2 separate regions of the Homo sapiens genome follow, and region 2 is linked to region 1. The links come from fine-mapping of genetic effects on gene expression. A gene starts in region 1. The other region holds a variant in brackets. All regions are shown on one strand. Distances are between the middles of the regions.

Evidence for each region.
Region 2: its variant is fine-mapped to the expression of IP6K2 in whole blood (TOPMed, PIP above 0.99).

The regions. Positions count from the first base shown.
Region 1 is chr3:48,712,827-48,728,118 of GRCh38, reverse strand. It overlaps IP6K2 (inositol hexakisphosphate kinase 2), which reads left to right and starts at 10,898. Exons shown (of 6, transcript NM_016291.4): 1 at 10,898-10,962. RefSeq lists an enhancer at 14,920-15,292.
Region 2 is chr3:48,677,515-48,691,865 of GRCh38, reverse strand. It overlaps NCKIPSD (NCK interacting protein with SH3 domain), which reads left to right and starts at 5,951. Exons shown (of 13, transcript NM_016453.4): 1 at 5,951-6,229; 2 at 8,854-8,963; 3 at 9,314-9,518; 4 at 9,710-9,821; 5 at 10,086-10,579; 6 at 11,637-11,807; 7 at 11,979-12,065; 8 at 12,153-12,291; 9 at 12,409-12,489; 10 at 12,683-12,811; 11 at 12,897-12,989; 12 at 13,130-13,302. The coding sequence starts at 6,059. IP6K2 (inositol hexakisphosphate kinase 2) reads left to right here. Exons shown (of 6, transcript NM_016291.4): 4 at 384-559; 5 at 2,153-2,328; 6 at 3,093-3,863. The coding sequence ends at 3,593. RefSeq lists enhancers at 3,060-3,560, 3,561-4,061, 5,444-5,513, 5,108-5,839 and silencers at 6,036-6,330, 5,724-6,443. The variant C/A (reference allele first, on the strand shown) is at 3,782.

The sequences.
Region 1 (15,292 bases):
CAGCCCTAGACCCTGAAGGGTCAGAAGGCCGTCTCATTCTCAATATACATTTTATCACCCAGTCAGCTCCTGACATGAAAAAAAAAAAAAAAAAAAGCTTCAAAAATTGGAATCTGGCCCTCAAACCCCACAACAGGAATTAATCAATCTCACCTTCAAGGTGTACAGTAATAGAGAGCAGGCAGCCAGACGGCAACACATTTCTGAGTTACGATTACTTGCCTCTGCTGTGAGACAAAATCCAGCCGCACCTCCAGCACATAAGAACTTCAAAATGCCTAAACCACAGTGGTCAGGCATTCCTACAGGACCTCCTCCATCAGGATCTTGCTTCAAATGCCAGAAATCTGGCCACTGGGCCAAGGAGTGCCCACAGCCTGGGATTACTCCCAAGCCGTGTCCCATCTGTGCAGGGACCAACTGGAAATCAGACTGCCCATCTTGCCTGGCAGCCACTCCTAGAGTCCCTAAAGCTCTGGGCCAAGGCTCTCTGACTGACTCCTTCCCAGATCTGCTCGGCTTAGCGGCTGAAAACTGATGCTGCCTGATCACTTCAGAAGCCCCCTGGACCATCACGGATGCCGAGCTTCGGGTAACTCTCACAGTGAAGGCTAAGTCCATCCCCTGTTTAATCGATACAAGGGCTACCCACTCCACGTTACCTTCTTCTCAAGGGCCTGTTTCCCTTGCCCCCATAACTGTTGTGGGTATTGATGGCCAAGCTTCAAAACCCCTTAAACTCCCCCACTCTGGTGCCAACGTGGACAACATTCTTTTATGCACTCCTTTTTATTTATTTCCACCTGCCCACTTTCCTTATTATGTCAAGACATTCTAACTAAATTATCTACTTCCCTGACTATTCCTGGGCTAGAGCCACACCTCATTGCTGCCCTTTTCCCCAATTCAAAGCCTCCTTCACATCCTCCCCTTGTGTCTCCTTACCTTAATCCACAAGTATAAGATACCTCTACTCCTACCTTGGTGACCAATCATGCACCCCTTATGATCCCATTAAAACCTAATCACCCTTACCCCACTCAATGCCAATATCCCATCTCACAGCAGGCTTTAAAAAAGTTAAAGCCTGTTATCACTCACCTGCTACAGCATGGGCTTCTAAAGCCTATAAACTCTCCTTACAATTCCCCCATTTTACCTGTCCAAAAACCAGACAAGTCTTACAGGTTAGCTCAGGATCTGCACCTTATCAACAAAATTGTTTTGCCTATCCACGCTGTGGTGCCCAACCCATACATTCTTTTGTCCTCAATACCTTCCTCCACAACGCACTATTCCGTTCTTGATCTTAGAAACACTTTTTCACTATTCCCCTGCACCCCTCGTCCCAGGCCCTCTTTGCTTTTACCTGGACTGACCCTGACACCCATCAGCCTCAGCAACTTACCTGGGCTATACTGCCGCAAGGCTTCAGGGACAGCCCCCATTACTTCAGTCAAGCCCAAATTTCTTCCTCACCCAATTACCTATCTTGGCATAATTTTTCATAAAAACACACATGGTGTTTATGTCTGGTGATTATGTCTGGCTAATCTCCCAAACCCCAACCCCTTCTATAAAACAACAACTTTTTTCCTTTCTGGGCATGGTTGGATACTTTCACCTTTGGATACGTGGTTTTGCCATCCTAACAAAACCATTATATAAACTCACAAAGAAAAACCTAGCTGACCCCATAGATCCTAAATCCTTTCCCCACTCCTGTTTCCATTCCTTAAAGACAGCTCTAGAGACTGCTCCCACACTAGCTCTGCCTGACCCATCCCAACCCTTTTCATTACACACAGCTGAAGTGCAGGGCTGTGCAGTCAAAATTCTTACACAAGGACTGGGACTGCACCCTGTGGGCTTTTTGTCCAAACAAATTGACCTTACTATTTTAAGCTGGCCATCATGCCTCTGTGCGGTGGCTGCCACCACCCTAATAGTTTTACAGGCCCTCAAATTCACAAACTATGGTCAACTCACTCTCTACAGTTCTCATAACTTCCAAAATCTATTTTCTTCCTCACACCTGACGCATATACTTTCTGCTCCCTGGCTCCTTCAGCTATACTCACTCTTTGTTGAGTCTCCCACAATTACCATTGTTCCTGGTCTGGACTTCAATCTGGCCTCCCACATTATTCCGGATACCACTCCGACCCCCATGACTGTATCTCTCTGATCCACCTGACATTCACTCCATTTACCCATATTTCCTTCTTTCCTGTTCCTCACCCTGATCATACTCGGTTTATTGATGGCAGTTCCACCAGGCCTAATTGCCACTCACCAGCAAAGGCAGGCTATGCTATAGTATCTTCCACATCTATCATTGAGGCTACCACTCTGCCCAGCTCCACTACCTCTCAGCAATCTGAACTCATTGCCTTAACTCGGGCCCTCACTCTTGCAAAAGGACTACACGTCAATATTTATACTGACTCTAAATATGCCTTCCATATCCTGCACCACCATTGCTGTTATATGGGCTGAAAGAGGTTTCCTCACTACGCAAGGGTCCTCCATCATTAACGCCTCTTTAATAAAAACTCTTCTCAAGGCTGCTTTACTTCCAAAGAGTCATTCACTGCAAGGGCCATCAAAAGGCATCAGATCCCATCGCTCAAGGCAACAGTTATGCTGATAAGACAGCTAAACAAGCAGCTAGCATTCTAACTTCTGTCCTTCGTGGCCAGTTTTTCTTCCTCTTATCAGTCACTCCCACCTACTCTCCCACTAAAACTTCCACCTGTCAGTCTCTTCCCACACAAGGCAAGTGGTTCTTAGACCAAGAAGAATATCTCCTTCCAGCCTCACAGGCCCATTCTATTCTGTCATCATTTCATAACCTCTTTAATGTAGGTTACAAGCCGCTAGCCCATCTCTTTTGTTTTTGTTTTTGTTTTTGAGACAGAGTCTCGCTCTGTTGGCTAGGCTGGAGTGCAGTGACACGATCTTGGCTCACTGCAAGCTCCGCCTCCCGGGTTCACGCCATTCTCCCGCCTCTGCCTCCCCAGTAGCTGGGAGTACAGGCACCCACCACCACGCTCAGCTAATTTTTTTGTGTTTTTAGTAGAGATGGGGTTTCACCATGTTAGCCAGGACGGTCTCAATCTCCTGACCTTGTGATCTGCCCACCTCGGCCTCCCAAAGTGCTGGGATTACAGGTGTGAGCCACCACGCCCGGCCCTAGCCCGTCTCTTAAAACCTCTTATTTTGTTTCCATTGTGGAAATCTATCCTCAAAAAAGTCACTTCTCAGTGTTCTATCTCCTGTTCTACTACTCCTCAGGGATTGTTCAGGCCCCCTCCCTTCCCTACACATCAAGCTCAGGGATTTGCCCCTGCCCAGGACTGGCAAATTGACTTACTCACATGCCCTGAGTCAAAAAACTAAAATACCTCTTGGTCTGGGTAGACACTTTCACTGGATGGGTAGAGGCCTTTCCCACAGGGTCTGAAAAGGCCACCGCGGTCATTTCTTCCCTTCTGTCAGACATAATTCCTCAGTTTGGCCTTTCCATCTCTATACAGTCCGATAACAGACTGGCCTTTATTAGTCATATCACCCAAGCAGTTTCTCAGACTCTTGATATTCAGCAAAACCTTCACACCCCTTACCGTCCTCAATCTTCAGGAAAGGTAAAATGGACTAATGGTATTTTTTTTTTTTTTGAGACAGAGTCTTGTTCTGTCTCCCAGGCTGGAGTGCAGTGGCCCAGTCTCTGCTCACTGCAAGCTCTGCCTCCCAGGTTCACACCATTCTCCTGCCTCAGCCTCCCATGTAGCTGGGACTACAGGTGCCCGCCACCACACCTGGCTAATTTTTTGTATTTTTTTTAGTAGAGACAGGGTTTCACCATGTTAGCCAGGATGGTCTTGATCTCCTGACCTCATGATCCGCCCGCCTCGGCCTCCCAAAGTGCTGGGATTACAGGTGTGAGCCACCGCACCTGGCCAGACTAATGGTATTTTAAAGACACACCTCACTAAGCTCATCCTTCAACTTAAAAAGGACTGGACAGTATTTTTACCTGTTGCCCTTCTCAGAATTAGAGCCTGTTCTCGAGATGCTACAGGGCACAGTCCATTTAAACTTTTATATGGACGTACTTTCTTGTTCAGCCCCAGCCTCGTCCCAGACACCAGCCCTCTAGGTGACTATCTTCCAGTCCTCAAGCAGGCTAGACAGGAAATTCGCCAGGCTGCTAATCTTCTCTTGCCTACTCCAGATTCCCAGACATATAAAGACACCCTAGCTGGACGATCAGTTCTTATTAAAAATCTGACCCCTCAAACTCTACAACCTCGATGGACTGGACCCTACTTAGTCATCTATAGCACCCCAACTGCCATCCGCCTGCAGGACCCTCCCCATTGGGTTCACCATTCCAGAATAAAGCTGTGTCTGTCAGCCAGCCAGCCTGATCTCTCTTCTTCCTCCTGGAAGTCGGAAGTACTCTCCCCTACTTCCCTTAAACTCACTCGCATTTCTGAAAAACAGTAATAACCCTTATGAGCCTAATACATCCCTTCATTCTTTTAAGTCTATTCATCCTTACCCTACTTTTTGCAACAGGGCTATACGCAGTCACCCCCACTACTTGGACTATGCCCCAAAAACTTGTCATCCCTACTATCTTCTGTGTAGTCATACTCCTATTCACCATTCTCAACTACTCATAAATGCCCTGCCCTTGTTTACACTGCCAGTTTACACTTTTCCTCCAAACCATCATAACTGATATCTCCTGGTTTTATCTCAAACTGCCACCCTTAAATCTCTCTTGAAGTAAATAAAAGATCTTCAGTGGCAAGGTACACTCCAATACTTTCACCCTGATGAAGTCCTATTCTCTCCATAGTTTTGTCGTTGCTATATTGCTTACTTTGATGACCATTCCTTGCCTTCTGATGAGTTTCAACGTCTTTTCATGTTGTGAGGTTCTGTCCATTGCCTCTTAATACCCTTTTCTCCTTCTTTGCTAACAAACCTCAATTTTGTCCAGGAGGGTAAGTGTCCAGTCCCAAGTAATAGACAAATCCTGACCCATTCTCTGACTTCTCAGCCTCCTTGTGAGCCTGAGAAGCCTGAGTCACTGGTCAATGAACAATAAATGGAAGTCTGCTGGGGCTTCTGGGAAAGCATTTGCTTACCTGATAAAGGGGATAGATGTGGCTGGTGCCAGCCTACCTCCTACTTTGAATACTGATATGATGTTTGGAAAGGATGCAGCTATCTTTCAATGCAAGGGCCATAAGCCTGAGGACAGAATCCAACACATCAAGGATGATGGTGGAAGTATCCAAATAGCCTGAGTTATATGCAACAGAAACAAATGGTGTGTCCACCAAAAGACATGTAAAAGAACATTTGGCCACGCACGGTGGCTCACGCCTGTAATCCCACCACTTTGGGAGGCTGAGGTGGGTGGATCACCTGAGGTCAGGAGTATGAGACCAGCCTAACCAACATGGTGAAACCCTGTCTCTACATAAAATACAAAAATTAGTGGTGGTGCACGCCTGTAGTCCCAGCTACTCAGGAGGCTGAGGCAGGAGAATCGGTTGAACTTGGGAAGAGGAGGTTGCAGTGAGCCGAGATCATGCCACTGCACTCCAGCCTGGGCGACAGAGAAGACTCTGTCTCAAAAACAAAAACAAAAACAAAAACAAAAACAATATTTTATATTTTTGTTCTTAAATATTTGAAATTAAATATTTTTCTCATTTTTATTCATTTCTAGGGGCCAATTTGTAGCAAATGCTATTATTTTTAATGTATTTTTCTTGTATTTATCACCTTAACATTTTATCTTATTAATTGTAATAATTTTCAAGAAAGTCCTTTGGATTTTCTAGATTTGTAACCACGGCATTAACTAAAGAGATAGTTTAATGTCTTTCTCTCCAATATTTATAACATGCCATTTTCTTTTCTTATTATATTCGTTAGGATTCTTTTTTTCCCTCCAAAGCCAAATGCTTTAGAAATATTTGCTAGAATTCTAAGGCAATGTGTTATAATAGTGTTGCCATCATCCCTGTCTAGTTCCTGATTTAAAAAAATGTTTTGCATATCTGGTGTACCTGAACTTATTATTATATCGTTTATGTATAGTTTATATCTGTTTCTTTTTTCTTTTCTTTTTTTTGGAGACAGAGTCTTGCTTTGTCACCTAGGAGTGCAGTGGTGTGATCTCAGCTCACTGCAACCTCCACCTCCTGGGTTCAAGTAATTCTCGTGCCTCAGCCACCCAAGTAGCTAGGACTATAGGCATGCACCACCACGCTCGGCTAATTTTGTATTTTTGGTAGAGATGGGCTTTCACCATGTTGGCCAGGCTTGTCTTGAACTCCTGGTCTCAAGTGATCTGCCCACCTTGGCCTCTCAAAATGGTGGGATTACAGGTGTGAGCCACAGTGCCTGGCCATGTCTGTTTCATAAATTGTCTGTTTCTATGTTAGACAGTGGCCCTGTTTATTTTGCTCAATGCCTATCACCTTAAATCCTACCTTTTCTCATGTCATGTACTCCTGTTCTCTTCTAGTTTGTGCTGGCCTGATCTCTCTGCCCACTCCTTTATTTTTCAGCCTTTTCTGTTTGTGTGGTCTCAAATATCCTATAAATAGCATGTGGCTGGGTTTTGTCTCTCTAATCCAGTCTCTATGCCTTTAAAGGGAGTTCAGGATTTATTTACTGTGATAAAGATGTTTAGTTTTGCTCATTCCATAAATTCCTTTTTTTTTTTTAAAGACACAGGATCTCGCTATGTTGCCCAGGCTGGACTTCAGGTCCTGGGCTCAAGTGATCCTCCTGCCTCAGCCTCCAGAGTAGCTGGGATTAAAGGTGACAGCCATAGTGCCCAGCCCCATAATTTAGGTTTATTATTATTATTATTATTATTGTTATTATTTTGAGATGGAGTCTCGCTCTGTTGCCCAGGCTGGAGTGCAGTGGCACGATCTCAGCTCACTGCAAGCTCTGCCTCCCAGGTTCACACCATTCTCCTGCCTCAGCCTCCTGAATAGCTGGGACTACAGGCGCCCGCCACCACGCCCAGCTAATTTTTTTGTATTTTTTTAGTAGAGACCGGGTTTCACCGTGTTAGCCAGGATGGTCTCGATCTCCTGACCTCGTGATCCGACCGCCTCGGCCTCCCAAAGTGTTGGGCTCACAGGCGTGTGCAACCACACCTGGCCTAGGTTTATTATTTTTTACTTTGTAGTTTTATATTTTTATTTAGTTGACCTATATGAAACTACTGTTTTTGTAGGTTTAAACAGTTAAATATTAGCAGTTTCACAGGGTCAACCTAATATTTTCCTCTTTCTCTTTGCTGTCTTTGATTAAACTGTCATTCATTTAATGTTTCCCCTTGGTAATTTGGACATTCTACTATTTTTTCCTCATTCCATTTATGGTTATTGTTCCTCTCCAGGCATGACAACTGTCCTTTAGCTGGGTCTAGGTGGGCAGATAGTGCACCTGTGTTACGGGTAAGAGTTTGAGGCCAGCTGGCCCTTCTTCCTTGGTATGTAATTTGTTTTATCTATCTAGAAGCTTGTATAATGGTCTCTTTCTCCTTGGAGTTTAAGAATTTTACTGTAGTCTTTCTCTTTCATCCTGCTTGGGAATGTGGCCAACCCCTCCCATCTACACACAGCTTTTTCTTTTTTCTTTTCTCTTTCTTTTTTTTTTTTGAGAGGGAGTCTTGCTCTGTCACCCAGGCTGTAGTGCAGTAGCGTGATCTTGGCTCACTGCAACCTCTATCTCCTGGGTTCAAGTGATTCTCCTGTCTCAGCTTCCGGAATAGCTGGGACTACAGGTGCACTGAGACTACACCACGCTACACCTGGGACTACAGGTGTAGCTGGGACTACACCACGCCCGGCTGATTTTTGTATTTTTTAGTAGAGACAGGGTTTCATCATGGTGGCCGGGCTGGTTTCAAACTCCTAACCTCAAGTGATCTGCCTGCCTCAGCCTCCCAAAGTGCTGGGATTACAAGTGTGAGCCACTGCACCCGGCTGACACAGAGTTTTCTTCATGTCATGAAAGTTTTCTTCTGTAGTTTGACTAGCTGGTGCCTCCATTTCAGCTGTCCCTTTTTCTCCTTTTAGGACTCCTGCTGTCTGCACATCAGAATTCTTGGACTTGCCCCCCAGATCTGTGGTCTATTCCTTCATCGTTTTCAGCTCTGTGCATCTTTCCCTTAAGTTCTGAGCTATTTCTTCCATTAGACCCAAGTGGCTTTTTCATATTCCCTCAAAATATCAAACTTCTTCTTTCCTCGGGGTCTTTGTACTTGCTGTGCTTTTGTCAGAAATGGCTTCCTCTAGATCTTTCCATGCTCAGCCAGTGCCTTTGGGCTGATCTTAGCTCAGATGTTCCCTTCTCAGATCTACCTCTCCTGCTGCCTTAGACATAAACACCATACTCTGCACTTTTGCTTGGTTCCTTTTCTCCATTGTAGTCACTCTGCCTATAATTATGTTATTTGTTCTTTTACTGTCTGTTGCCTCTCACCCACCTCCGGACAAATAAATCATTTGAATTCTTGCTGTGTTTATTCACGCTGCATCCCTGGTGTCTAATCTAAGTCAGACCTTGATAAGCACTTGTGAAAGGAATGGAAGAGTGAATTAATGCTAGGGCGGCCCCAAGGTGGTAACTGCTATGAAGCGGCCGGGTACGGTGCCTAATGCCTGTTATCCCAGCACTTTGGGAGGTCAAGGAGTGTGTATCACTTGAGGCCAAGAGTTTGAGACCAGCCTGGCCTGGATAACATGGTGAAACCCCGTCTCTATTGAAGAATAGAAAAATTAGCCGGGTGTGGTGGCACACGCCTGTAATCCCAGCTACTTGGGAGGCTGAGGCATGAGAATCGCTTCAACCCTGGAAGCGGAGGTTGCAATGTCATAGCACTGCAGCCTGGGTGACAGAGCAAGATTATGTCTCAAAAAAAAAAAATTCTGAGAAGGTGGTAACTGCTATGGAAACATATAGAGCCAGGATGAGGGGATAAAGGTGGTACTGAGTGCTGGGGGCAGAGTGGGGCAGGTTACAGTCTGAAATGAGGGGCTCTGAGAGCTGGGGTGCAGCTCTTTGGAAATCTGTGCAATCCAGGCATGGGAACAACCATAACTCATACACTGTGCAGGAGAGTGCATGGGGTGTGATGTGTGAGGAACACTGGGAGATTGAGCAGCAAGGCCAAAAGCTGGCCGGGGAGATACAGTCGGGGGGGTGATAGGGAATTATGAAGGTCCTGATGTCTCTGGTTTTCCCTTGGGGAGGAAGTACTCCAGGGTTCTGAGCAGGGAATGGGAGGATCTGACTCATGTATTCACAGGCTGATGTGTGCAGAACAGACTGAAGGCATCAGGGGCAGCAAGAGGAGACCAGGAGGCAGCTGTGACATTGCACTCAAGAGAAATGGTGGCAGTTTGGACTCAGTGAAAGGTATGGAGGTGGCAAGAAGTGATTTCATTCTGGGTAGATGATGCTGATGGAGACAGCAGACCTTCCTGGTGCACTGAATATAGATGGGAAAGAGAGTAGTCAAGGGGTACTTTGAGGTGTTTGACTTGAGCAATAAGAAGGGCTGAGATGCTATCACTCAATTTGGGGAAAGTGGGGTGAAGTAGGTTTGGCGGATGAGCCAGTGTTAGGGTAGCACAAGTTGCGTTTGAGATGCCAGCAACTGGAAGTCAGAGTGCAGATGTCTAGTTGACAGTGGGACTAGTGAATCTGCCACTCAGGAAGGGTCTGGACTGGACAAACACTTTTAGGAGTGATTGACATGTAGGTGGCATTTGAAGTCATGAGCCTGGATAAGATTTTGGAAGAGTGAGTGTAGACAAAGAGAAAACACACAGATGAGAAACTGGTGAGACTGGAGGAAACCAGGAGGACATGGAGCCCTGGAAACCACATGCTAAGGTGAGAGGAGCTGCTCACAGAAGTCTCTCCTATCCACTGTTATAAGGTCAGGGATATTTATTTATTTTCCTTTTTTGTTCACTGCTGTATTTCCAATACCGAGTGTAAGTGCTTAATAAATACTTGTTGAATTAAAAAGTGTATGAGTGAATTTACACCTTTGCAAATGCCCAGTACACAGGGCTGCAACATTGTTCTCCTTTACAGAAAGAGCAGAGATCAGGTAGGAGGCTCTGCCCATTCTCAGTGGCACTAACCCTCTCCTTTGCCTTTCACAGCTATGCTGACATTCACTCAGGTGAGAGCCCTTCTGTCCAACACAGGCCCAAGACAAATGAGCCTCAGACAAGCCCTGTGGTGTGGTGCTTGGTGGGAGCTGGGTTGGGCACTGGGTCATCCACCAGTCCCCAGAAAACTCTATGGCCACTTCTCTGTCCACCCTTCCATATCTAATAATCTGTCTGTCTGTATCTATAACCATTTCTTTGTCCACCGTCTACAGGCACTCTTTTGTCCCTCTTTCCGTCTATTCACATCCAGTCTTCTGTCCATCTGCTAGAGTGACCAACTTCCCAGTTTGTAGTGGACTGTCTCTGTGTTAGCATTGAAATTCCTGCATCCTGCGAAATCGCTCACTACTGAACAAACCAAGACTGTTGGTCAATCCATCTGTTTCCCAGGTATCCTGCTGTCCATCGGCCCGCAGCTAGTCTATCCACCCAACCGCCCGTCAGACCTCCGGCCCACCCTCCCAGACGGAGGACAATGCTCCGCCCTCTCTGGCCCCGCCCCCAGTCACCGCCTTTTCCGGAAGCTGCTGCAGCGAATCCTGGCACCCTAGCAACAGCGCCTTTCAGGCTGTCCAGTCCGCGTGCGCAGCTCCTAGGACGAGCCAATAGTGAGGGGCACCGGGAGCGAGGTGCAGGGGGCGGGGCTCGGCCTGGCCGCAGCCATTTTGGTGCGAGAGAAACAATAGGACGGAAACGCCGAGGAACCCGGCTGAGGCGGCAGGTAAAGCTCGCGTCCTATGGCCCTAGTGCCCGAGGAGCTTTGAGGGAGATTTTTTCAGGCTACTGGGAAACGGGATCTCTGATCATTGGAGTCTCCCAGGTTATTTGGGAAAGACTTCTTCCGTGGTCATTGTGGGGGAAATCTCCCGGGGTCCCTGTGGATTCGATTTCCCTGGGTCATTTGGGAGGAGGGTTTTTCTTCTGATCATTGGGGGAGGGATTTCCGTGGTTTTGGGGGTCCAGCATCCTCCCCGGTCATTGGAGGGGGTCTCCCGGGTTTGGGGGAGGGCAGGATCTTTCCTGGTCATTGAGATCTCCCCGGGTCTTGGGAAGCGCAAGATCTACGGTGTCATTGAGGGGTCTCCCCAGGTCATTGGCGGCCACGATCTCCCCAGATATTTGGCGGGTGGAGGGGTCTTCCCGGATCTTTGGATAGGGAGTCAGCTCAGCGCCTCAGGTACTGTTACCTGGGGTCGGCAGATGTGCAGCCATTTTGAGTGTTGAATGCCATTTGGGCCCGTCAGATGGTGTTCGATGAGGGAATCTACACACTTAACCTTATTATAGAAAAAATGCCTTTAAATGGATAAGAGGACACCTTTATAGTGATATTTCCACTCTTTACGTTTGATTACAGACCGCTTTTGTCTTTTGCATCCTAATGGCTTATTTCATTTTAGGATTGTATTCGTTCTCATATATCAACTAAGCTACACTAGCAGAAAAGTGAGTGAAAATAAAATGTAGAAACCAGTAAAATCCAGTGCTCTTAAATACCAGGGAAAACAGAACTAGTCACTGCTTGGAATTAAACATTTCCGTAGCAGAATGTACACAGAACAAAAAATCATCTTGAATAGTTTTAAGAAAAAGTACTGGCACTTTGGAACGTGGTAACAAAAATGTTGTAGATCATCGGTTCTATGATATTTTTAATAGAGGACCATGATTACAGTAATTTTGTTGAATTCTAGTGTTTAAAATGTTTGCTGTATTTGCAGTTGTAGCCAGGTAATATTTTAAGTGAACTAAGATGCTTATTTATATAGGTTGTTGCTGTGGGGTTTGTATAATTGCATCGTGTAACTTGGGTGTTAAGTATTTAAAGAGAAGCTTCAGGGTGTTGTTTTAACTTTAGCCACTATCAGAGTTAGAAAGGGCCAAATGAATACTTTATCACATTTGACATAATAGGCAAATTGATGGCCTAGTAACTTTTTTTTTTTTTGAGAAAAAGTTAAACTGTTAACTGTCATTTAAAATTTTTTTTCTATTTTCTGTGGTCTTGTCTGACATTGTCATTTCGATAGATTTACCTGCTTTGTGACTTTAGAATTCACAGGCATTGTTAGAAATCAAATGGAGAATCACTTGAGCCCAGCAGTTCAAGATCAACCTGGGCAACATAGCAACACCCTGTCTCTACAAAAAAAAAAAAAAAAAGAGAGAGAGAGAAAGAAATGAAATGGATAAGAACACTGACTAGAGTTAATACAATTGTAGAAACTAGCTTTTTGTTTGTTTGGTTTGTTTTTTATGCAGGGCCTGGGTAGGGAGGGAGCAAGGCAGGGACCTGGGAGATCTAGAAATCAGTGTAACAGATATAATAGATTTCTTTTGTGTTTCAAAGCTTCCTAGGTGACAGACAGGTACACTGTATGCTAGCCCTGTATCTGTCTGAGCAGTGGAATGTGCCAGGAAAGAAGGAGCAACCACTGACTGATGAACCTTTGCCAGTCTCCCTTCCAAGAGGGATGCCAGAGCCTTCTGTAAGCTCCTGAGATGTCACTGGTATCTAGGCAACAGGGATGAGCCTGAACCTCCCTGAGGCCAGCTTACTGAGGTGAAAATTTTCCATTGTTTGGCTCATAAAGAGGATGCACTGGGGAAGAATTTTCCCTTTAAGTGAAGTTATTTCACCTAGTGGGATAATCTTGGGTAACAAATTGAACACACTCTTATACATTAGAAAGTAAGCAGATGATTATTCTCATGTTATTACATTTTAAAGCATGTTTTTGTTTTTTTAAATTATGTTTTTGCCTATTTGTGTACCATATAATAAAAGTAATAAGAAGTAGTTGTGTTTTACAGTATATTCTGGTGGCAAGGAAATGTCCTTCTCTCCAAAAATTGAGTTTAGAGCCCACTTCAGGATTTGGAGAAGTCAATTTGCCGAGATGATGCACAGTTGATTTGGGTCTGTCATCCATAACCAGCTTCAGTAGTTACTAATTCCTGGCCAATCTTGTTTCATCTACACTGTGCCTATCCCCATCACTGCCCTACTTTTTTTTTTTTTTTTTTTTTGAGACGGAGTCTCTCTCTGTCGCCCAGGCTGAAGTGCAGTGGTGCGATCTCGGCTCACTGCAAGCTCCGCCTTCCGGGTTCACGCCATTCTCCTGCCTCAGCCTGCCTCAGCCTCCGCGCCTGGCCTGCCCTACCTTTTAAAGAAAGAAAGGGCCAGGGCCAGGCTTGGTGGCTCATGCATGTAATCCCAGCACTTTGGGAGGCCAAGGCGGTTGGATCATGAGGTCAGGAGTTCAAGACCAGCCTGGCCAACCTGGTGAAACCCCGTCTCTACTAAAAATACAAAAACTAGCCAGCCTCTGTGGCAGGTGCCTGGAATCCCAGCTACTCAGGAGGCTGAAGCAAGAGAATCGTTTGAACCCAGGGGGTGGAGATTGCAGTGAGCCAAAATCACACCACTGCACTCCCGCCTGGGCGACAGAGTGAGACTCCATCTCAAAAAAACACACACACACACACACAAAAAAAAGGAAAAAGAAAGGGCCGAGCGTGGTGGCTCACGCCAGTAACACCAACGCTTCGGGAGGCCGAGGTGGGCAGATCACTTGAGGTCAGGAGTTTGAGACCAGTCTGGCCAACATGGTGAAACCCTGTCTCTACTAAAAATACAAAAATTAGCTGGGTGTGGTGGCAGGATCCTCTGTCTCAAAAAAACAAAACTAAACAAATTTCTGGGATATGCTCCCTTTAAGATTCAGGGGTTTTTTGTTTTGTTTTGTTTTGTTTTTAATGAGACGGAGTCTCGCTCTGTCACCCAGGCTGGAGTGCAGTGGCCAGATCTCAGCTCACTACAACCTTCGCCTCTCAGGTTCAACCGATTCTCCTGCCTCAGCCTCCCTAGTAGCTGGGACTACAGGCATGTGCCACCGCACCTGGCTAATTTTTGTATTTTTAGTAGAGACGGGGTTTCACCATGTTGGCCAGGCTGGCCTCGAACTCCTGACCTTAGGTGATCCACCCACCTCGGCCTCCCAAAGTGTTGGGATTACAGGCGTGAGCCACTGCACCGCACCTGGCCTTTTTCTTTCTTTTTTGTATTACTATTTTTTTTTTTTTTTTGAAAAAATGTCACTCTGTCACCCAGGCTGGAGTGCAGTGGTGTGATCTCGGCTCACTGCAACCTCAGCCTCCCGAGTAGCTGGGATTACAGGCGCGTGGCACCACGCCCGGCTAATTAATGTTGTTTGCTTTCTCTATGTATCCACCTATCTTACTTGAGACACTCCTATGTGTTTTCGAAATTGAGTGTCTAATCCCAAACCTAAGGAAGAGTAAAACTTCTTTTAATGGAATAAAACATGTTAGTTACCAAGAAGCAGACATCTGGCTCTAGTGTTGCTTTTGCACTTAGTTTGTGAGAATGTGCCCAGTTGGAACCTGGGCTAGATCTCCTAAGTCTGGGTTTGTGGAAGGCTGCCACGTTGCCTGCTCTGGCCCTGGGGTGCTGTGGCCCAAGTTCCCCAGGCCATATTACTCTACCTTAAAACCCTACCTGTTAGAAGAGCCCACCTGTTATGGCTCCTTGCCTTGAACCTTGTCTTGCTCTTTTAGTTGGGGCTGCTTCGGGGCCAACAGGCCTTCGTAACTGAAGCTGCACACTCAAATGAGATGCCCCATGGGCCGTGTGAGCTTGTCTCAGCTTTCATGGGGATTGCAAAAATCTCGCATCCCCCTTCAGTATTTGTTTTATAAGAATAGTAGGTTATTTTTGCTTTGCAAGTATGAAACTAACATTGGATATGGCTTTTTGGTATAACTACTCACCTGCCCATTCAGATTTTTATGTGCCCTAGTGTCTTAGATTTATATATTTATTATTATTATTGTTGTTTTTGGAGACGGAGTCTCACTCTGTTGCCCAGGTTGGAGTGCAGTGGCGCGATCTCGGCTCATTGCAACCTCTGCCTCCTGGGTTTAAGCGATTGTCTTGCCTCAGCCTCCTAAGTAGCTGGGCCTACAGGCATCTGCCACCACGCCTGGGTAATTGTATTTTTGTAGTGATGGGTTTTCACCATGTTGTC
Region 2 (14,351 bases), 36 kb after region 1:
AAAAGAAAAAAAAGAAAGTTTCTGGATTTTATTTATTTATTTATTTATTTATTTATTTATTTTTTGAGTCTTTCTTGTTCTGTTGCCCAGGCTCTGGAGTGCAGTGGCACGATCTTCTAGGCTCACTGCAACCTCTGCCTCCCAGGTTCAAGTGATTCTCCTGCCTCAGCCTCCCGAGCACACCACCACGCCTGGCTAATTTTTGTATTTTTAGTAGAGACAGGGTTTCACCCTGTTGGCCAGGCTGGTCTCCAACTCCTGATCTCAAGTGATCTGCCCATCTCGGCCTCCCAAAGTGCTGGGATTACAGGCATGAGCCACCATGCCCGGCCTTCTGAATTCTGATAAGACATACTGATTTATTGGTCCTTATCTCTTTATAGCCATAAGTTAGAAGAAGAATTTGAGTGGCTAAAGAAATCTGAAGTCTTGTACTACACTGTAGAGAAGAAGGGGAATATAAGTTCCCAGCTTAAACACTATAACCCTTGGAGCATGAAATGTCACCAGCAACAGTTACAGAGAATGAAGGAGAATGCAAAGCATCGGAACCAGTACAGTATCCTTTGTTCACGGGCATCTCTGCATTTGAGGGTAAGAGGAGAGGAAATGAGGAAGTCCCTTGGAGCTTGGAGAGAGAAGTTAGGTTTTTATAGTCATGGTTGAGTTTCTCCTACCTGGGTTATTCCAGGACCTGTATGATAATTATGGGCAAATAATCACTTCCCTCAGGGCAGCTACTGGCCTAGGAGTGCAGATGATGAGGAGTGGGGTATAATGGGTTTCTGGGAGGTGAGGGGTGCCTCATGAAGGGGCCAGCTTGCATCAGGTGGGCTTTAGCCTAGGTAACCTAGAGGAAGAGGGCAAGGAGCTGCTCCCTGTTTTCAGACTTTTCAGAAGTCTGAAAACATTGCTCACCTGCCAAGGGCTGGGGTGTTTGGGTGAGGAGACTGACCTGATCAGTCCTGGTTCACCAGACCACCACTGGGACATGAGCTGTGCATAAGGAAATATTTGTTTTCTTTTCTCTTTTCTTTTTTTCCTCTCTCTCTCTTTTTTTTCTTTTTTTTTTTTTTTTGAGACAGAGTCTTGCTCGTCCCCCAGGCTAGAGTGCAGTGGTGTGATCTCAGCTCACTGCAACCTCCGTCTCCCAGGTTCAAGCGATTCTCATGCCTCAGCCACCCAAGTAGTTGGGATTACAGGCATCCGCTACCACGCCTGGCTCATTTTTGTATTTTTAGTGGAGACAGGGTTTCACCATGTTGGCCAGGCTGATCCAAACTCCTGACCTCAGGTGATCCACCTGCTTTGGCCTCCCAAAGTGCTGGGATAACTGGCATGAACCACCACGCCCAGCCCTCTTCCTCCCTGCCCCTCCCCTCCCCTCCCCTTTGTAGAGGTAAGGTCTCACTGTGTTGCCCAGGCTGGTCTCAAACTCCGGGGCTCAAGTGATCCTCCTGCCTCAGCCTCCCAAAATGTTGGGATAACAGGCGTGAGCCACCACGCCTAGCCTTTTATCTATTTTTTGGTCTCTTAAAAATGTAAAAACCATTCCTAGCTTATAGGCCATAAACAGCAAGCACTGGGCCATAGTTTACCAGTTTCTGCTGTTGGGAGCACTGATTCCTTGAATGGGAAATAATGAGTCAATGGTCTGTGCACCAGAGACACTCATTATTTCTGGTTATTGTTTCTAGACCTTTTTAGTGCACACAGCTGAGAAGCAGACGTTTAAAGAGCAAAGTATTTTCATGAGTTTATACTGATATTTCCAGTTCACATTTAAGGCTACAGGATTTACTGAACTTTCTTGATGTTCTACTTGTAATTGAGGACTTTGTTTTTGGACCCTAGTCCTACACTTAGCTAAGAGTTCAGAAGATGGCATGTGTGTCTCCCAGGCAGGAAGAGCCTAGGCCTCTGTTGAGTCCGGGTGCAGGCTGCTTCCACGTCAGTTCCCTGACAAGAAGTAAAGGTGTCTCTTAGCTTTATAGTCAGCTCTGGACTCCCTGTGTCGGGGATGGCAGGACTAATGGAGTCTCCTGTGGGTTCAGGCTTCTCTGGGTCACTGCATCAAGGCACTGTACCTTGAGAGTGCCAAGGACCCATGCAGTAGCACTTCCTTTTGGGGGTATTATTCTTAACTACTCAGAATTTATCTTACTGGAAAACCTGACTTCCCGCTACGAGGTGCCTTGTGTCCTTGACCTCAAGATGGGCACACGACAACATGGTGATGATGCTTCAGAGGAGAAGGCAGCCAACCAGATCCGAAAATGTCAGCAGAGCACATCTGCAGTCATTGGTGTGCGTGTGTGTGGCATGCAGGTGAGGGGGATGCTAGGGCTGGCTAGGGCATCCAGTGGCTGTCACTTCCCCACCCTGGTATAGTCCTGTTTGCTCAAAAGATTCCAGGCCAGGTGCAGTGGCTCACACCTGTAATCCCAGCACTTTGGGGGTCAAGGTGGGTGGATCACCTGAGGTCAGGAGTTAGAGACCAGCCCAGGCAACATGGCGAAACCCTGTCTCTGCTAAAAATACAAAAATTGGCTGGGCGTGGTGGTGCACGGCTGTAATACCAGCTACTTGGGAGGCTGAGGCATGAAAACAGCTTGAACCCAGGAGGCAGAGGTTGCAGTGAGCTGAGATCACGCCATTGCACTCCAGCCTGGGCGACGGCGAGACTGTCTCAAAATAAAAAGGTTCCAGATTTGACCCTACATGAGTCTGTTGCTTTTTGGTTAAAAAAGAAAGCATGCATGCCTGCATGATCCTCTCTCAGATTGGTCTGGTTGGCTGAGTCCAGAATCTGTGGATAGTAGTAGGGAGGAAGGCAAAAGGGTTTGGTCCTCTCCAGTGACCCAGATGTTGAGGTGGGGTGCTGGGGCACAATGACCAAACCCAGGTTGGATGGCTGCATCCCAGGTGGGGGCTGATCAGAGAGCATAGTGGACAGTGGCTCATGTGCAACTGGTGTACTTTATCTGATCTGGGCTGTCACATGCCGCCACCACCACACCACCCCACCCCCGCCCGGGGTCCAGGGTTTGAGATGGCCCTCAGCCCCTGACTTGCTGGTCTCTCTCCTACAGGTGTACCAAGCAGGCAGTGGGCAGCTCATGTTCATGAACAAGTACCATGGACGGAAGCTATCGGTGCAGGGCTTCAAGGAGGCACTTTTCCAGTTCTTCCACAATGGGCGGTACCTGCGCCGTGAACTCCTGGGCCCTGTGCTCAAGAAGCTGACTGAGCTCAAGGCAGTGTTGGAGCGACAGGAGTCCTACCGCTTCTACTCAAGCTCCCTGCTGGTCATTTATGATGGCAAGGAGCGGCCCGAAGTGGTCCTGGACTCAGATGCTGAGGATTTGGAGGACCTGTCAGAGGAATCAGCTGATGAGTCTGCTGGTGCCTATGCCTACAAACCCATCGGCGCCAGCTCTGTAGATGTGCGCATGATCGACTTTGCACACACCACCTGCAGGCTGTATGGCGAGGACACCGTGGTGCATGAGGGCCAGGATGCTGGCTATATCTTCGGGCTCCAGAGCCTGATAGACATTGTCACAGAGATAAGTGAGGAGAGTGGGGAGTGAGCTTGCTAGCTGCTCCAGTACTTGAGAGCGACTCTGTGTCCCAGGCACAGCTGTGCTGCGTCAGGGAGGAAGCCAGTATGGCCAGGTGGTGGCTCCTGCAGCCTGGAGCTGATGTGCAGTGGCCTCTGTGAGCCCCAGCCTGAGCCAGTCCCAGCTGTGCTTGGAGTCTTTATTTATTTTAACTATTT[C/A]TTCAACATTCCACATTTGATGATGATACCTCTTTCTTCCCTGAGTGTATATGTTCTAATACAAATCTTTTTGTTTATTGTATATAGTGCTCCTGTCATTCTTTCCAAGAGCAGGCAGTCCCCCTCCCAAGCCTCACCACATGCTGTGACCACCTCCCTGGCTCAGTATTCTCCTGGCTGCCACCCCCACTCCATGGATCCTAAAGTCAGCACAACCTCTTGGCATGGTGTACAGTCTCCAACCCAGCATCCTGAAGGTTACCCAGAAAGGATCCCCAAGTTACATACCTTCTGGCGTCTGTGCTGGCTAAGTGTCTCAGCACCTCTATCCAAAAACCACATGACGCTTGACACAGGTCTTCTCATGGGCCGTATGCAGCTTAAGCCAATTAGATAGCAGGTGATCCAAACCTTGGGTCCAGCTTTTAATCCCTCCTATGCCACTGGCAGCAGCTAATTGGCTGGCTATTGTGATAGATGTCCTGGAAGCAATACTAGGGTCTCTAGCCTCGGGTCTGGTCCATTGGCAGCCATGGACTGTGTTGTAAAGGGGCCCAGGTGATGGAGGGTACCATAAAAAGGCGTGTTTGGGCAGGTAGGGTGGTCCTCTTGGCCACACCACCTGTCACCACTCCTGCCCAGCCCTAGTCCCCATTGCAATTTCACCAGTCTTATTCTTCAGGCAGTCCCAGACAGCACAGACCCCGAGATTCTGCCCTGCCCCAGGAGGGCTTCTGGGAGGAGGAAGGGCCAAGAGAGGTCTTGAACTGAAGAGCCAGACCTGGTGCAGAGAAGGCAGGGTCTGGATGTCAGTTTCTAGCAGTTCTACCCCTCACCTGAACCTCACACTAGGCCTATGTACTTTAGGCCTAAAAATAGGCAACTGGGTCAGACAGACACCCATAATCCCAACACTGGGAGGACTGCTTGAGTCCGGGAATTTGAGACTAGCCAGAGCAACATAGCAAGACCTTGTCTCTACTAAAAAAAAAAAAAAAAAAAAAAAAAAAAAAAGCTGAGTGTGGTGGTGCATGCCTGTAGTCCCAGAGACAGTAGGCTTGAGCCTGGAAGATCAAGGCTGCAATGAGCTTGATCATCCCACTGCACTCCAGCCTGGACGACAGAGCAAGACCCTGTCTCAAAAAATAAATACAGATAAAAATAGAAAACTTGCACACACTGGCCTGTACACGCCTCCTGCTTCCTGGGCTCGGGCTTCCTGTGGAGCGTAGCTGGACCATTCTCAGCCACAGTCTCTCCAGGACCCTGAGGGCCTCTTCCCTGGGTCTTCCAGGCACTCTTATTACACGGATTTCATATATCTGGAGATCTGGGCTGACTGGAAAGCTGGGTGGATCAAATAGGCTCTTAAGGCCACCGTGGTACCCCACTCCCTCTTTCAGCCCTCCTCTATGCTCTCAGAAAGGGGCATCGCAAATCTTAAGTCCTATAAAGACAATAAAACACAGCAAGATGATAGCGATTGATGGGGGTGGGAGCTTGACGGACAAATACTATAGGAGAGGGAAGGGAAAATTGTCCCAGGTAGAGGGAACAGAATATGCAAAGGCCCAATATAGAGAAAACCAGCCATAGCTGAAGAGAGAGGAGGAGTAGGGGTGGGGAGCAAAGATGGGAGGGCTTTAGACAGGGAATAGCCCCGCCTGGTTTCTGCTTTTGTGGCCCCCTTCTCCCCACACTTGCTCCCCACTGGCCACCACCGGCACTCGGTGAAGACAGGTGGTGAGGCCTAGACACACCGAGAGCCGGGCCCCGCGGGGGCTTCCAAGTGTCGGATCAGCAAGATCATCCTTTCGAGGTCGCCGTCCTTGCAATTAGTAGATGGGACCCACTGCCCCAGGGCGGTAGGGGCGCACCCGCTACGAGCGGAGCGCGCTTTCACCGGGAGGTAGGACGGGACGCAGCGCTCGGACTTAAGCGGGGAAAGGGAGCAGAGGGCTGGACGGGTGAAACTGAGGCCGGGGTGAGGAGTGAGGGTGCGGTGTCCGGGGATGAGGGGCCTGGAGCCGGGAGGGACCAGAGGAGACAGCGAGCTGTCGACCCCAGCCCCGCCGCACCTCTTGGGGCCGCGCGGGGGCGCTGCTCTCCGATGCGTGGAACGATACAGCCCGGGGCGGGGCTTCGGCGGGCGGGCGCGCGCGCGCCTGCGTAGTGTGTCACGGGGCGGGACAACCGCGGCGCGGCTCGGCGCTCCCGGCCTGGCGTTGTGGCGCCGCAGCCCTTGCCACCTTCCCTGCACCTGCCCTGCCCGGCCTCATGTACCGCGCGCTGTACGCGTTCCGCTCGGCGGAGCCCAACGCGCTGGCGTTCGCCGCGGGCGAGACCTTCCTGGTGCTAGAGCGAAGCAGCGCGCACTGGTGGCTGGCCGCGCGGGCGCGCAGTGGTGAGACGGGCTACGTGCCGCCAGCCTACCTGCGCCGCCTGCAGGTGAGTGCGCCCCTTCCCGCCCGGCCTCCGCGCCCCTGGGGCAGGACCCCTTCACAGCCCCGCGGAACCGACCCAGGGACCCCACCCTCTCCGGGACCCGAGGCCAGGACCTCTATCAGACAGGGAGTTTGAGAACCTGACCCTGAGACCCCCGGACCCACGGGGACTGAGACCCCAAGTGTCAGCATCACCCACAAAAGACCAGGCCCTTGACAGACCAACTCCCGATCGACCAAAAGCCTAACTCTGGGACTGAGACTCCTCAGGACCCCAGACCCTTCAGTATCGAGTCCGCCATCTGAATGGCGACCCTGAGCCCCACCGAATCCTGGCCAATTATTCAAATCCCTGAGACCCCAGATCCTTAATATGCCCCTTCTCTGGATTCCTAGGACCCCACAACCAACCTCCCTCCCTCCCTCCCTCCCTCCCTCCCTCCCTCCCTTCCTTCTTCCCCCAACCCCGCGCCTTGCCCCCCGTTGGAGCCACCACTGAGACCTGGACCACCTTGGACACCACCTGTTTCCCTAGCCATTCTCCAGGTCCTCAACCCCCCAACTTGGACCCTAGAGCCATAGACACCTCCATCCCCTATGTAACACCCAAGCTTTGGTACTTCAGTGTCTTTCACTAGCCTGTGTTCAGCCACCCTCTAAGCTCTTCTTAAGTCTCTACCAACCTTATTTGAACCAAGGACCCATGCCCCTGCTGACACTGTCTGCTCCACTCCCCAACCCTGACTTCTCAAACTTTCTTGCTTTGAAAATGGGTTCCATCCCTACTTGTTCCCAGCCTGGAGTGGGGACTGCTCACATTGTGATGAAGTGAGTTCTTATAGCTTCTCCTGGTCTGATCGTGGCCCCATTTCCTTCCAGTGGAAGCTGCAGTCCCAGTTCCTGTTTCCCTAAGAGTAGCCCTGCTGCGGGGGTTGGGGTGCGTATCTCCAGCTGGTCTATTCTGACCACAGGGGGAAGAAGGGCCCAGAGCTGCCGGGCCTGTGCCAGACACCCCCGCCCCGTCCTAGTCCTTATCCTTTAGGAAACATCCTGTCCCAGCCCAGTTCAGGACAGAAATAACGGGATAAATTTGGAAGTGTCATCTGGTCTTACCAGGAAGGATGGGCCCTGGGGGCCTAGGGGCTTCCTCATAGACCCTTGGCGTGATCCCATCTAGGAGTGCCAGGGGTGGGAGTGGGGGCCGTGGACACCATGGCTGCTGTGTGTCAGACCCAACCTTTTTGGGAATGGGGTCTCATTGAAGGCCTCTGAGGAAAAGTCCTGTCTCTTCCCCTACTGGGCATAGGTCAAGGGCCTGTGAGTCCCCTGCCGCCAGCCAGGACCAGTGGGGCAAGGTGTTTGGGGAGGGCAGAGAGGCTACCATCTTCTCTGTCACTGTCTGTTTCTTTCTGCGTGTCTCTTTCTGTCTGGATTGCTGCGACTCTGTGCCTCTCTGCCTGTGTCGTTCCGACTCCACATGTGTGTGTTTTTGTTTCTTCCTCCGGCTCCCCCCACACTCTGGCTTTGGCTCTGTTTCTTTCTGCGTTGTTTCCCTCTGTCTGCCTCTCCGTTCCTCTCTGAGCTCCTCTCTTTCCCCATTCCTTTCTTTCTCTCTCTCTCTGTGTGTGTGTGTGTGTGTGTGTGTGTGTGTGTGTGTGTGTCTTCATGTCTTTCTATCCCCCTGTCTCCTCTCCCTGCACTCTGGCACACCTCATACCACCTGGAGGGCTTTGCTGACCTCTGTGCCCACCTGTCTGTGCCCATCAGGGAAGCTTCTCAAACCCATGGTGGAATGAGTTCATCTCAGCTCCGGGACTCCTATGTAGCCTGATGGACTACGTGTGCCAGGGCCAGGGGAGGGCTGGGGGTAGCTGGTTTGATAGCTGCTACCCTACACTCCCCATGTCAGATAGGCAGAGTAGACTGGATCCCTGGAATGTTGGGGATGGCAGTACAGAGCCTGGAACAGGGGCTAGGCCCCTCTCTCATGTTTATCCTTTGCCACAAACACAGAACTGCTTCCCAGGGTGGGTTTGGAAGCTTACTGAGACATCTTGTGGGGATGAGGGCCAGCAGCAGGGTTGGGGAGGGCAAGTCCCTTTGACCCATTCTCAGCTCCCAGGGCTTACAGAGGGCCCTTACAAGGACAGGGCTGTTCTGGGGTATGACCTTGGTTTTGTGAAAGATCAGCAAGATGCAGAGTGATGTATTAAGGATTCCAGATACTGGAGACTTCCTGTTTGGCATCTCAACCTGGGCTCTGAGCCAAGACCAGGGATAGACGAGGTATGCGCTCCTGGCTGCAAGCTGGGAGCCCCTGGGCTATGTTTTTGCTTTAGACCTCTGATTTTCAGAAACATCTTAGCCAAGAGCCTTGCTGTGGGGTAAAATCCTGATCAGGACCTAATATGTAATGTGGCAGCATGGGGGTCACCCTGTGCCTCAGCTCCCTGAGTGATACAGTTTGAGAACCCCATTCCATATTCTGGTTCAACTTTTTGTGCTATGTCTAGCATTCCAGGCTTTCGCTATATTGGTTCTCTGCCCTGGGTTCTATCTCGGGCTGGGCCTGGGCTGAGCACCTCCGTTTGGCCTTCAGGTCTAACTGCTGTCCCCTGCCCCCCCCAGGGCCTGGAGCAGGATGTCCTCCAGGCCATTGACCGGGCCATCGAGGCTGTACACAACACAGCCATGCGGGATGGTGGCAAGTACAGCCTGGAACAGCGTGGAGTCCTCCAGTGAGTGTTGAGGGGAGTGAAGTGGGACCTCCCGGTGAGCATGGTGGGGTGGGGTTCTTCAATGAGTGTCATGGGGCAGGTGGGCCTGGGAAATGCGAGGGTTGGCAAGGGTGGTGGGGGAATGGCACCTCCCAGTGAGCAAGGTGGGGTCGGGTCCTTCAGTGAGCACCAGGGGTGTGCAGAGCGCAGGACTGAGGATAGTATGGGGTACTGTAGGCTGGGGTGGAGCATGGAGGAGATGGGGATGTCTGAGGGGCCTGGGCTATGGGGTCCCAGCATCCCACAGGGGCATATGAGGACTTTGAGCTGTGAGATGCAACCCCCCAATAGTCTTCCTGTCCTTCCATCAGGAAGCTGATCCACCACCGGAAAGAGACCCTGTCACGCAGAGGCCCTTCAGCCTCCAGTGTTGCAGTTATGACCTCATCAACCAGTGACCACCACTTGGATGCTGCTGCAGCCAGGCAGCCCAATGGGGTGTGTCGAGCTGGGTTCGAGCGGCAGCACAGCCTACCCAGTTCTGAGCATCTTGGGGCAGATGGAGGCCTCTACCAGGTGTGTGGGGAGGACATCGTGGAGAAGGGAGGTGGGTGGAACTTGAGGCTTCATCCAGAGGCTCAAGGGGTCCACTCAGGAGTGATGCGGCCCAGAGCCATAGTCCTGCCCACAGCCAGGGCTCAGGGCCCGAGCCTCGCTGACGCTCTAGATGTCAGTCTGTCCTCCAAGATCCTACTTCCATCTTCCAGATCCCACTTCCATCTTCCCAGATCCCACCACAGCCTCGCCGAGCAGCACCCACCACACCGCCCCCACCAGTGAAGCGCCGAGACCGCGAGGCCCTGATGGCCTCTGGGAGTGGTAAGAAGGCAGGGTTAGGGGAATTCAGGTGGAGGCACCCTATGCTTGGAATGGTTGTGCTGCCTGTGTCAGGGAAATGGAGGCTCTAAGCTGGGGAAGAGGACAGGACTCCCATTTTGGGGCAATTAGGGGCTCTGGGCTTTGTGAGGAGGCAGTGCCTAGCAGAGAAACTAGGCCCTGTGTTAGGGGACAGGGGATCTGGGCTGTGAAGGGTATGGTTTTCCAGGGGGCTGCCCTGGCCCAGCTTCTACTCACTGCTCGCAGGTGGCCACAACACCATGCCCTCCGGGGGTAACTCTGTGTCCAGCGGCTCCTCAGTCAGCAGCACCTCCCTGGACACGCTCTATACCAGCTCCAGCCCATCTGAACCAGGCTCCAGCTGCTCACCCACACCCCCACCTGTGCCCCGCCGAGGCACCCACACCACCGTGTCCCAAGTCCAGCCCCCTCCCTCCAAGGCATCAGCACCTGAACCCCCTGCAGAAGAAGAAGTGGCAACTGGTACAACCTCAGCCTCTGATGACCTGGAAGCCCTGGGTACACTGAGCCTGGGGACCACAGAGGAGAAGGCAGCAGCTGAGGCGGCTGTGCCCAGGACCATTGGGGCCGAGCTGATGGAGCTGGTGCGGAGAAACACTGGCCTGAGCCACGAATTATGCCGGGTGGCCATCGGCATCATAGTGGGTCACATCCAGGCCTCGGTGCCGGCCAGCTCACCAGTCATGGAGCAGGTCCTCCTCTCACTCGTAGAGGGCAAGGTGAGGGTGGGCGGCACAGCAGGGCCACCCTGCTACCCACCCTGTTCCCACCGTCACACACTTGTCCAGCCTGTACATTACAGGTATTTCTCAAGCTCTGGCTCTGAGCTCTTACTGTGCTGGGCACTGGGGACGTTGAGCTGATTTCTGAAGCAGAAAGGAAGGACAAGCATTCCAGGCAGATGCGCAGCCTGGACAAGGGCCACAAGGCAGGACTGAGCCTGGCTTGTGGGAGGAAGTGGAACAAGGCCTGCAGGACTGGAACACAGGGAGTGAGGGAGTGGGTGCTGTAGGAGGAGGTGAGACCTGGGGCAGGTGACAGATAAGACGACATGCGGGTGGCCAAGAGTTCTGTCTGGCTGCAGGGAAGGAATGGACACGGCGTGGGTGAGGGTAGTGCCTTGCTGACCTTGGCAGTAAGAGACATGGGTGCTGGGAGAGCTGGGATGGAGTCCTAGGTGCTGACATGGATGAGAGGGAGTGAGGTGTGTGGGCATCATGGGATGGGTGGGATCCTTGGCACTCATGAGCAGGATGGGGGCAGTGAGCCCAGCATACATGATGGGGGTCAGACAGACCAAAGGTCCCTCTTTAGTGCTCCATGGTTCCTGTTACACTTCTGGTTTGGGTGTTGGGGAGTGGGCCAATGGGCTTGGCTGTGCTGGGCACAACAGCTAGTGCCTGGTCAGCAGGGTTCAAGGAAAATGTGGCAAGTTGGTAGATGACAGGCCTGTGCCATTTTGTGTGGAATGGGAGAGTGAGGTCTCAGAGTCACATTCTGGCAGTGACAGAGTTCATGGCCCTCCTAGTTGGGGGTGTTTATCCAGGTCTGGGATGAGAGGCGAGCTGTTGAAAACCCCCTACAGATGAGTCTCCCGTTGACTCCTGTCCTGGGAGGTCATCAAGACTGGAGTTGAGCCTCCTGTCCAGTGTGGGCCAGGAGGGACTTGAGTTCATGGAGTAAAAGTCCACAGATGGACTCTCCAGGCCTTGGAGGCTCCCTGGAGATGGTGAGGGCAGGGAGTGTGCTGAGTCATGCCTTGCCCTCTCCCTCTAGGACCTCAGCATGGCCCTGCCCTCAGGGCAGGTCTGCCACGACCAGCAGAGGCTGGAGGTGATCTTTGCAGACCTGGCTCGCCGGAAGGACGACGCCCAGCAGCGCAGTTGGGCACTATATGAGGATGAGGGTGTCATCCGCTGCTACCTAGAGGAGCTGCTGCATATTCTGGTAAGGGTGGGGTCCCACACACATACCCCACATGGGGAACAGTGGCCCCCACCCTGTAGCATCCCTCACAGTGCTAGGAGTCTCCCCTACACATATGTGCTCAGCCCTCTCTTGTGCGGCTGCACAGCTCCGCTCATGGTGGCTGATGCTCTCACTTCCTCATTTCTGTAGACTGATGCAGACCCTGAAGTTTGCAAGAAAATGTGCAAGAGAAACGAGTTCGAGTCTGTCCTGGCCTTGGTGGCCTATTACCAAATGGTATGTGCAGGATGGAGGGGAGGGGTAATGGAGAGACCTAGATAGTGGGGGAGTTCCAGGCACTGAGCACGCAGGGTTCCCTGCCAGGAACACCGAGCATCACTGCGGCTGCTGCTCCTCAAGTGCTTTGGCGCCATGTGCAGCCTGGATGCAGCCATCATCTCCACGCTTGTGTCATCCGTGCTGCCTGTAGAGCTGGCGAGGGACATGCAGACAGACACGCAGGGTGAGGCTGGAGGGCGGGGTAGGAGGGAACTTCCTGCTATCTGGAGGGTGTTCCTGCCATCTGCTGGGGTTTCCTGCCATCTTTGGGGACTCTGACTGCCTGCCTTGTCCCCCCCAGACCACCAGAAACTCTGTTACTCTGCCCTCATCCTGGCCATGGTCTTCTCCATGGGAGAGGCAGTGCCCTATGCACACTATGGTAAGAATGCAGTAACCGACCAGCTGATCACAGGTCCTAAGCCAGGGCCCATTGCCCGAGGGCCTGGGACCTGCTGACTACACAGCCTAGCAGGGAGAGGCTATCCCCAAGGCTCACAGAAAGCCAGGAAGGGTGGGTGGTGCGGGGGTCGGAGGGGAATGGGGCTGCAGACTTCTGTGCGCCCCTCTCCCAGAGCACCTGGGCACGCCTTTCGCCCAGTTCCTACTGAACATCGTCGAGGATGGGCTGCCCTTGGACACCACAGAGCAGCTGCCGGACCTCTGCGTGAACCTGCTTCTGGCTCTCAACCTGCACCTGCCAGGTGGGGTGGGGCCTGGCTGGGCGGTGGCTGAGCACATGGTGGCTCTCAGGCTCAGCACCCTGTCTATACCCATGTCCTTCCTTAGCTGCTGACCAGAATGTCATCATGGCTGCCCTGAGCAAACACGCCAATGTCAAGATCTTCTCCGAGAAGCTGTTGTTGCTCCTGAACAGAGGGGGTGAGGGCCCGGGAATCTGCGCGGGTACCACTTCCATGCCCTGTGACTCCATGACCCCTGCAATGACTCCCGTAACCCCCTGGGGTGACTCTGGGATCCCCACAAGGTCCACCCTGACCGCTATGACCCCTGCCTCCTAGATGACCCTGTGCGCATCTTCAAACATGAGCCACAGCCACCACACTCTGTCCTCAAGTTCCTGCAGGACGTGTTTGGCAGCCCGGCCACAGCTGCCATCTTCTACCACACAGACATGATGGCTCTCATTGACATCACTGTGCGGCACATCGCAGACCTGTCACCAGGAGACAAGGTGCCTGGAGGTGGCTGCAGCAGCGGGGGTCACTGTGTGGAAACTGAAACAAAATGGTGGGGGGCATGACATTGAGTGGAGATGAGGGGGCAAGGCCACTGCTGGAGCCAGGTAAGTGTAGGAGGCCATGATAGGTGCACCAAGACCCAAAGGAGCCAGCCATGAGGTGATCTGGAGGTGGTGGGGCTGGAGGAGGCTGGAGAGGAGGGAGTGGAGGGAGATGAGGCATGGAGGATGGAGTTTACACAAAGCCTCGGAGGCTGCTGCAAGAGGTTGTGATCTCAGGACCGGGGAATGTGATGTGATTAACATCCCACATGGAATCAACTGCATGCCAGCAGAGTGGAAGCCAGCCAGGGAGGAAGCAGCCTCAGTGGTCCAGGTGGCATGGATGGGGTGGGGATGGGATAGGTCGTGGCAGTGGCAGTGGCGAGAAGAGGCCAGCTGTGGAGTGTTTAGTAAGTGGATCTGGCAGGGCTTGCCACTTGATTTATCTTGAGCAGCTAGATGGATGAAGTGCTGATTTTTGAAGTTGGGGAGGCTGGGAGAACTTCTTGGGGGAAAATAGAGAGTCGTGTTTTGAATGTGTCAAGAATGAGGAGATATCTGCTAGACACCCAGGTACCGAGGGCATCAGGGAGGCAGTGGGGAATGAGTTGAGACTAGAGAGACATTTCGGAGTGGTCTATGCAGAGATACGATGGGAAGCCTGTGACAATGTGATTGCCTCAGAAATGAGATAGATAGGCAGGTCAGCGGGAAGTTCGGGCTGCAGCCCTGGGCACAGCTGAAACAACTAGGGAGAAACCCAGGAAGAGAACCAAGAAAGCAGGAGCCCAAAGCCACATGTTTAGAGGAAGACGATCAGCCATCTCTATACCGTTAGGAGCCTGAGCGAGACTGGGGTTGGCCATTGGATTCACCACACAGAGGTCAGTGGTGCCTGACAAGCAGTGTCAGTGGGGTGCAAGGAGGAGAGTCTGAATGAAAGTTTGAGAGAGCTTGAAGTTATTGGGGAGTAGAAATGAGGGGAGGGTTGGAAGCAGTAA